2 separate regions of the Homo sapiens genome follow, and region 2 is reported to be linked to region 1. The links are microRNA targets in miRTarBase. Many come from high-throughput screens and were not tested one by one. Region 1 holds a microRNA gene; the other region holds the end of a gene's coding sequence.

Evidence for each region. Region 1 holds the annotated microRNA hsa-miR-4718 (AGCUGUACCUGAAACCAAGCA, at 2,913-2,933, opposite strand). A microRNA usually pairs through its seed, bases 2 to 8, with sites in the 3' UTR of a target mRNA and lowers its output. Matches are read on the target gene's strand: a 7mer-m8 pairs with bases 2 to 8, a 7mer-A1 pairs with bases 2 to 7 and ends in A, and an 8mer does both.
Region 2: the mRNA of TMEM64 is a reported target of hsa-miR-4718. Seed matches in the 3' UTR shown: 7mer-A1 at 3,748-3,754.

The regions. Positions count from the first base shown.
Region 1 is chr16:12,718,850-12,723,253 of GRCh38, reverse strand. MIR4718 (microRNA 4718) reads right to left here and starts at 2,933; the gene lies at 2,883-2,933. The region is part of intron 2 of CPPED1 (calcineurin like phosphoesterase domain containing 1); the gene reads left to right.
Region 2 is chr8:90,621,824-90,626,227 of GRCh38, forward strand. TMEM64 (transmembrane protein 64) reads right to left here. Exons shown (of 3, transcript NM_001008495.4): 3 at 177-4,039. The coding sequence ends at 3,848. Among named protein-coding and RNA genes, the nearest start is that of LINC01030, 18 kb to the left of the region's middle.

The sequences.
Region 1 (4,404 bases):
GTAATTGCCTAAGGCTCGCCCACTGCTCTGTTAGGGGAAGAGGCTATAGAAGACAAAGGAATGACACCCTGTGTGCATGTGTATGTGTGCACTATATGTGTGCATTGTGTACATGCGTGTGCATGTGCGGTGTGTGTGCGCACATACGGAAGTTAGATGGGAGCCGGGTGGAGACGTTGCCGACCCTCCTGTTCTCATCAGAAAGCCTGGACTGATGAGGAAGGATTCTGAGAGAGCCCCGCTGATAACCCACTCCTGAAATAGGGGTGAGGAGAGTCAAGAAGTGGGTATCCCGATGTCTTCCTGTTAATTTCTGCCCTCAGCTCATTTCACATTAGACCAACCCACACACATCTACTGAGCATCTTTATTGTGCAATGAAAATACACTGGAGCCTGCATCTTACTGCACCACCCAGCCTTGGGGTCCGTGGGAAAGCCAGTGGCTAGAATCCCTGGGAGAAAGAAACCCCTGAAAGCCAGGGCAGGCTGAGGAAACTATGCTGGTGGGAAGGGATTTTTTTTTCTTGAGACAGGGCTTCATTCTGTCATCCAGGTTGGAGTCCAGTGGTGCAATGACAGCTCACTGCAGACTTGACCTCCCCAGGCTCAGGTGAGCCTCCTGCCTCACGCTGGGACTACAGGTGCACACCACCACACCTAACTAATTTTTGTATTTTTGTAGAGACAGGGTCTCGCCGTGTTGCCCAGGCTGGTCTGAACTCTGGGGCTCCAGCGATCCGCTTTCCTTGGCCTCCCAAAGTGCTGGGATTACAGGCGTGAGCCACCGCGCCCAGCTGGGAAAGGATTTGACAAAGTATGGCAGCAGTCTTTCCAGCAGGAAATTCTTCCTCATTGCAAACTGTCATTCGTCTGGCTGCCCTGCAGCCTGCCTCAGCTGGAGAAATCATTTGGTTTGCAACTAACTGCTCGGCATCTACTTACCTGAGGGCGATATTGATTTTGTTGTTCTTTTGGCTGCTGCTTATATTGAGCTGGGAAGTCCACTCGCTGCCACCCCGAATGAGTAAAAGGCTCCATTAGTGGCCTGTTACATCACCTGACTGTTTCTCCGCTTACTAAGGTTGTCCTGCTATTTAATTTAAAATTTTCCAGCAGTGGCTGAGTGTATCATCATCAGTTCTCCTTTGAGTTGCCGTGCCTTCAGGGAATAGGGATTAGCGAGGTCTTATTTTCTTTAACTAAGCAGCATCTTTTCTTGTCTGTTTGCCTCAGAGAACATTGGTTTGCTTGTTCTTGCTGGGAAAAAAAAACATTCTTACTAAGACAGTAAATGGATTCATAACACAGTTGAAGTCTATTCACAGAATCTGTTATTTAGACAACCTCCATAGCGGAGAGAAAATATTTTGAAGGTCTCAGAGGTGGTTGGTTTTTAAAAATTATTTGCTAGTAGAATCTTAGCAGCTCTGCATATTGCTGGCTGGGATGGTCTGGTTGTTATTTATTTATTTATTTATTTTGCCTTTTTTTTTTTTTTAAGACGGAATCTTGCTCTGTCACCCAGGCTAGAGTGCAGTGGTGTGATCTTGGCTCACTGCAACCTTCGTCTCCCAGGTTCAAGTGGATTCTCCCGCCACAGCCTCACAAGTAGCTGGGACTACAGGTGCCCGCTACCATGCCCGGCTAATTTTTTTATTTTTAGTAGGGACGAGGTTTCACCATGTTGGTCAGGCTGGTCTGGAACTCCTGACCTCAGGAGATGCGCCTGCCTCAGCCTCCCAAAGTGCTGGCATTACAGGCGTAAGCCATCCTGCCCAGCCCCGGCCTCCTTTTTTTGTATTTTTTCTCTACTCCTAGTTCCAGCAAGCAGAGGGGTGGTCTGGTTGAATGGGAAGGTCAACACTTGGGTTTGCCATTTGTTTCTCGTTCTGTCTGTTTTATAACCGGGTTATATTCCTTGGTACTTTGCAGCAGTTTCCTTCTTCTTTTACCCTCAGAGAGAAACACAAAATGTGTATCATCTTGATGTCTTGGGCTTGGCAGGTAAGTACTAAGTTTCCGTGGTATCTGCCTGTCTTTCTGATTGAGATGGACTTTCAGTGAAGCATAGTGGTCATTTTCCCTTCAGAAGATAGAGCCTTAATCTGAAAAAAATAATCGTGGTAACGTGGACACCTATGTTCTTGGAAATGAAGTCACTCCACCTGGGTTCCCAGTAAACGATAAATTGTAGTATATTAAAATCCTAAGAAAAGCTTTGTGGCCAAGAGCTCATCCTATCCATCTAGGGCTTTACCAGTGGCTTCTGAAATACTATGGCAACATGCCATTCATAGCCATCCTAGGGACATTCCAAATCTTGTTTACTTTTAGTCCCCCATGCCAAAACAGTTTAACTGAGGGATAAATGAATTGGGCATGGGATTTTTATCCTAATAACATATAATTTTGTTTATTTGTGTTGAGCTGTAAACTAAGCTTTGCACAGAATTTGTATAAAATAAAACAGTTTGGGCTGGGCACGATGGCGCACGCCTGTAATCCCAGCACTTTTGAAGGCCAAGACGGGCAGATCACCTGAGGTCAACCAGCCTGGCCAACATGGTGAAACCCTGTCTCCACTAAAAATACAAAAATTAGCCAAGTGTGGTGGTGCACACCTGTAGTACCAGATACTCAGGAGGCTGAGTCAGGAGAATCGCTTGAATCCAGGAGGCAGAGGTTTCAGTGAGCCAAGATTGCGCCAGTGCACTCCAGCCTGGGCAATAGAGCAAGACTCAGTCTCAAAATAAATAATAAATAAAATAATAAAACACTTTGTTAATATCAAAGGTAAAGGTACAGAAAACAAGAAGTTTCCTTCACTGAAGCACAAATCCTTTGGTGTGCGGGATTTGAACACCTCTTTAGGAAAAGCTTGCTAGTAACTGAAGCCAAGTCACAAACAGGTGCTTGGTTTCAGGTACAGCTACAAAGAACACAGAAGAGAAGCTGACACTTTTGTATTTTTAGGGCAAAGGCTTCTTTCTCCAAGGCTGAAAAAGGCCTGGTCCCACACTGCTCTGATTGATTTATCTGGGGTGCCATCTCCTGGGGAGAAAACCATTGCCACACACTCACCAAACCAAGAGCGTATCTCTCTCGGGAAGACAGGATCGGTGTGAAGGCATCTGTGCTCTCCTGTCTAGGCCTGTCCAGAACTATATGAAGTCATCCAGTTTTGTTCAGTTTTAATAATGGCCTGATAAAAACAGATAGGTGTGTGTGTATGTGTGTGTGTGTGTGCACATAGTGTAATGGACATATAATTAACGTACACGTATTTATATAGGTGTTTAAATTTTTTTTTTTTCTGTGATGGAGTTTTGCTCTTGTCGCCTAGGCTGGAGTACAGTGGCATGATCTCAGCTCACTGCAACCTCTGCCTCCTGGGTTCAAGCAATTCTCCTGCCTCACCCTCCAGAGTAGCTGGGACTTACAGGACTGTGCCACCACGCCCGGCTAATTTTTGTATTTTTAGTAGAGACAGGCTTTTGCCGTGTTGGCCAGGCTGGTCTTGAACTCCTGATCTCAGGTGATCCACATGCCTTGGCCTTCCAAAGTGCTGGGATTACAGGCGTGAGTGACCGCGCCTGGCCTAAAGGTGTTTAATTTTTAAGGTCATTTGTGCGTATGGAGGGAAAAATCAAATCCTATATATAGGTAAGGTATATAAGGACATGGTAAGTCAATCTTTCCGTCTTCGCTCCTGGAGACCACATCCAGTTTCTTGGGTATCTTTCCAAGAGACATTTCTAGGCATATTTGCATAATCCCCACGTGTCAAGGAGGTGGTGCTAGGTGGACATAATTGAATCATGGGGGCGGTTTCCTCCATACTGTTCTTTTTTTTTTTTTTTTGAGACGCAGTCTCGCTCTTTCGCCCAGGCCAGCATGCAGTGGCGCTATCTCGGCTCACTGCAAGCTCCGCCTCCTGGGTTCACGCCATTCTCCTGCCTCAGCTTCCCGAGTAGCTGGGACTACAGGCGCCCGCCACCGCACCTGGCTAATTTTTTGTGTTTTTAGTAGAGTCGGGGTTTCACCGTGTTAGCCAGGATGGTCTCGATCTCCTGACCTTGTGATCCGCCCACCTCAGCCTCCCAGTCCATACTGTTCTTATGGTAGTGAATAAGTCTCAGGAGATCTGATGGTTTTATAAGGGGTTTTTCCCTTTTCTCTTGGTTCTCATTCTCCCTTGCCTGCCGCCATGTAAGACATGCCTTTCACCTTCTGCCATGATTGTGAGGCCTCCCCAGCCACATGAAACTATTAGCCCGTGAAACTTTTTTGCTTAAGAATCTTGCGCTGCCACCCAGGCTGGAGTGCAGTGGAAGGATCTCAGCTCACTGCAACCTACCCCTCCTGGGTTCAAATGATTCTCCTGCCTCAGCCTACCAAATAG
Region 2 (4,404 bases), not on the chromosome of region 1:
ATGGAGGGTCAATTATCAACATTCTCATTTTTAGGAGTACATCCTCCCTATCCCCTCAATCAAGGAGTGATTCAGGGGATTCAGGATATCCCCTGAATCCACCCTACATGACATGTAGGGTCTTTTCTCTACATGCATTAAAGTATAAAGACAAAGAAAGAAAAGCGAGAAGAAAGTAAAATATTACCTTTTATTTTCTCAGGCACACAAGTGATTTGGATACCAATTATCAAGACATTTTACTGATTTCCCTTTAGAATGATCTATTTTAAATCTTCAGCCACCTTAGAAAAAGTTTGCAGCAATCACTTTGCAATTCATAAGTATCAGGTTAGAATTTAGTTGTGGAATAAGTTAACAGTTTATGTTCAATATGTGAGGTTATTTGAACTCCTGAGTTTTAAATATCCTGTGGAACAGTGATTCCTCTCCCTTCTAATGGCTTTTCAGATTAAAGCAATGACTTTAAAAAGATTACATCCTAAATACTTGATTACAACAGAAATCGACCAATCTAAAAATCAGATAGTGTTATACTGAACATCATTCTGATATAATGAGTAGCCTCTGGCTGAAACAAAATTCCACCACCAAGGCCATCAACCAGGTTAGTACTGTTTTTCCTGGGGTCTATGTAAAACTCTCCTTTTCTCTGCAAATGCTGCTTGGCTGTGAACAGCATGGATTTACCTGCACCAATGTGGCACACACCTAGCAACTTTCTCAAGCATTCTAAAGATATCCCCAGAGCTAACAAATATTGACATATGTCACAGCACCTTTCTCAAGAACAGTCCAAATCAGCAGTGCACATTCACACACACAGGAATGCTGGGGATATGCTTATACCTGCACCACTTAGTTACAACAAGGGGAAATAAGAGTAACTAATGAACTTAATAGCTTCACAAGAAAAATGTTTTATAGTCATATACTTGACCCTATCAGGGAAAAGCCACCTAAAAGCATGTGTAGCTGGTTACAAAGTGCATCAAGGGAGAGAATGGCTGGCTCTGAATAAACCCACAGTCACTTCTGAACATAAAGTACACATTCTAATGACAGAGATTTGGTAATATTATTTTCACAAACCAAACAGTACAAATTTCAAGTTATTTCACAAATCAGATGATCAAATAAAAATGGACATGAATATGCTTAGTAAATTAGCATATACATTTTTTTTAAAGGTGCTATTGTAAAATAACCTACATGACAAAATTTGGCAAAGAGTAAACAAAATCATTAACAATAAACCAAAAAACATGTAAAACTTAAGAAAACTCCCAAAGAATTAAAAAAGAACACATATTTCATAGGATTCAGAAATTATATATCATTTTTAAGTGTGCATTAAGCAACTTTATACTGCACTTTAACAGTCTGAGAAATTTGACATTTCATTTCTATAAATATACATGAGTGGAGACATTTTATAAGTACATATGACTGACAGCAATATTTGGACAACATAAAAGTATCCTGTAGATATGTGTTGCTGCCATAAATCTGGGATGCAGGATTAAAAATGGAGTAAATAAGGCATGACAATGCTTTGCACGATTTATTGTGAGTGCAACTTAAAAACCCAGCAACCAAATTTACCCATCAAGTAGCAGGACTATAAGGGACTATTGTTTACTTGGATGCTGGAAATGCTGAAGAAAAGAAAAACCACAGCCACAGATTGGTATTTTAGAAACAGTCAATCCATACTATTTTAAGAAAAAAATGGATGATTTATTATATAAAATTAAGATTGGCAGAATACAGAAAATTATTTCTTTTACCTTTACATATTTATTGTTAAGTACCAAGCAAAGTGTAACAATTAGAAGAACTCATTACAAACTACCAAAATGTATTCATTTGGTGAAATTATTCAAGTCACAAATGCTTAGTAAATAAATGTACTTCAAAATACGTGAAGTGTAAAACAAGTATGAAAACAGTGATCTTAAACAATGATTCCTTTCACAAAAACTAACCAACAAACAAGAAGCACAAGAAAAAGGTTGTCAGGTTAGACAGAAAAAAATAAATCAAATGTATTGTTGGTTGGGATTGTTAAACTAAAATCATTAAACGAAAACCAGCAACTAGATTCAAAAGAGAGAAAAAAAACCGAAATGAGTAATTAGGATTCAAAAAGAATAAGGGTATTACAATACTATATCTGTTTTCCTACTAATAGCAAGAAATGAGGATTTAGATGCCAATTATGTCCTGTAGACCCAGGTGCTCTCAAAGTATTTGCACTGGTCTTCTAGGTATGGACATATAAATGAACTTTACTGTTACTCAAAGGTGAGAAAACTTACCCATTATAAAGGAAAGGAAAACAATTATACCTGATAGAGCAAAAAGATCACACATTAAAATGATCAAATTCATCTCTAGCATAAGACTAGAATAATCTGCTTCCAAAGAATTCCTTTGTACTTTAGTAGATGAGGGCAAAGCTTTCACCGTAATGAAAAGGCAAATGGGAGGTCTCTGATAAGTTGGAATCATCATAGCAAAAAAAGAGATACCTACCAGAAAATTTGCATTAATATCTATAACCTCATTTGTAAAAAAAAATCATTAAGTTTATAAACTATTTTAAAAATAAAACGAATACATATGTAATATGAATCATATGCCAAATTATATTCTATAGTCATAAGTGCTATTAATAAATACATTTGATTCATGCTACAAGAGAAAGAATTGAGACAATTTCACATTTCAGAATTCCTGAGTCTTATCAGAGAAAAACAAGTACTGAAAAAACAAACACAATAAACCTACTTAAAGTAGGGCAAATAACAAAATTTGGGCATATTTATAGTTTTAAAGCTGAAGACTATGGGAACAATATATATGTACTTCATGAAATTATAAACATGTTTTTAAAGCTTGGTTTTTAAAAAAGGCGTTTTGATCAAACAAGGCCACCTGAGTGACATCTTCAATGATGGTAAGCCCACCATTTTAAAGGAATAACATCTTTATTTAAAAGCCTAATTATTAATATAAAAAGGAAAAGAGTTTATTTTAACAAAATGTTTTAGTAAGATTGCAATGGGACAGCCCTTTGATGAAAAATCTAAGGAGGGTAAAGCCAATGTAACTGAATTAGAACAAGAGTTCCAATTTTGAGCTACCATCCACCAAATAATTTCCCTTTTGCTTTGCATATTACACAGTGAAAATAAACAGTTATATTAAGAGCACTTCAGTCCCACAAGGTAGGATTTAAGCTTTGTGAATAGGTGTAAATGGCCCTGTAACAATATGATGCCTGCAAAAATACATTCAACTGAAAATTAATGTCTGTTCTTTAACTAGTAAGGAAACGGGAAGCTAAGTGGTCCCACTTAAACAATAAAACAAAACAAAACAAAAACCACTGTTTATCCTTTCTGGAAAGACTACCAAAGCAAAGAACATCCAATAATATTATAAATTTAAAACTGCATACTTTTACTCATCTTTACAAGTAGGAAAGATGCATACAAACTACTCATGGGCTTTATAAATAAAGACACTAAGCAGAAATAATATTTGGGTTATTTCTCTGTTCGTAAATACACAGAAATAAAACAATTAAAAAACACTAAAGTGCAGACCTATAGGCCAATACAGGCATGATAAAGAGGTGCAGCCAAATTTGCATCTACATTTACACTTACATACCCAGAAAATGATTCTTGCTTTAAAAAAAAAAAATTGTGCAATTTAAAAACTAGTCAGTTTTGTTTGTGCTGTAATACAATTAGAACTTGTCTCTGCCCACTAGTGAAGTGACTGCTAGACCTTAGATAGCACACTAGGCTCTTGACAATCACGTATCTCATTAGAATCATACAACATTGATTCCACCTCCAGAAAATGTTAGGGTCCTCTTGTTGTAGAATGAAGAGCCACTGGTATTTGGTTGATTGCCTTTAACCAGAGAAGATTTCAGTTCCATTTCACAAGCTACAATAGCTGCATTCAATTCCACTTGAGCTCGATGAACTACATAAAACATGAGGCCTATACTTATAATAATCTGTGAATAAAAATAAAACATTACAGTTATCAATATTTTATACAAAAAAAAGAAATAAATCCAATAAATATTTGGCTTAGAAATGCTTCAAACAGGGTGCTTCTCAAAGATGGTAGGTAAAGGGTTATACATTTTTAAATAGTTTACACACAGTTATTGTTTATTCTTTCCTTTGCTGCTTCTCCTGGTAGTGGAGGACCAAAGTCTACAGGTAACCATGACATGGTATTAGGAAAACACACATTCCTTTTGGTTCACTTGATACAAGCCAAACCTGTCTCTTTGTACCAAAAAGCTTTCTTCAAGGAATAAAAAATGTCTACAATAGAGGTAACAGCTGGCTAAACTTTGTTGGTATAATTAAT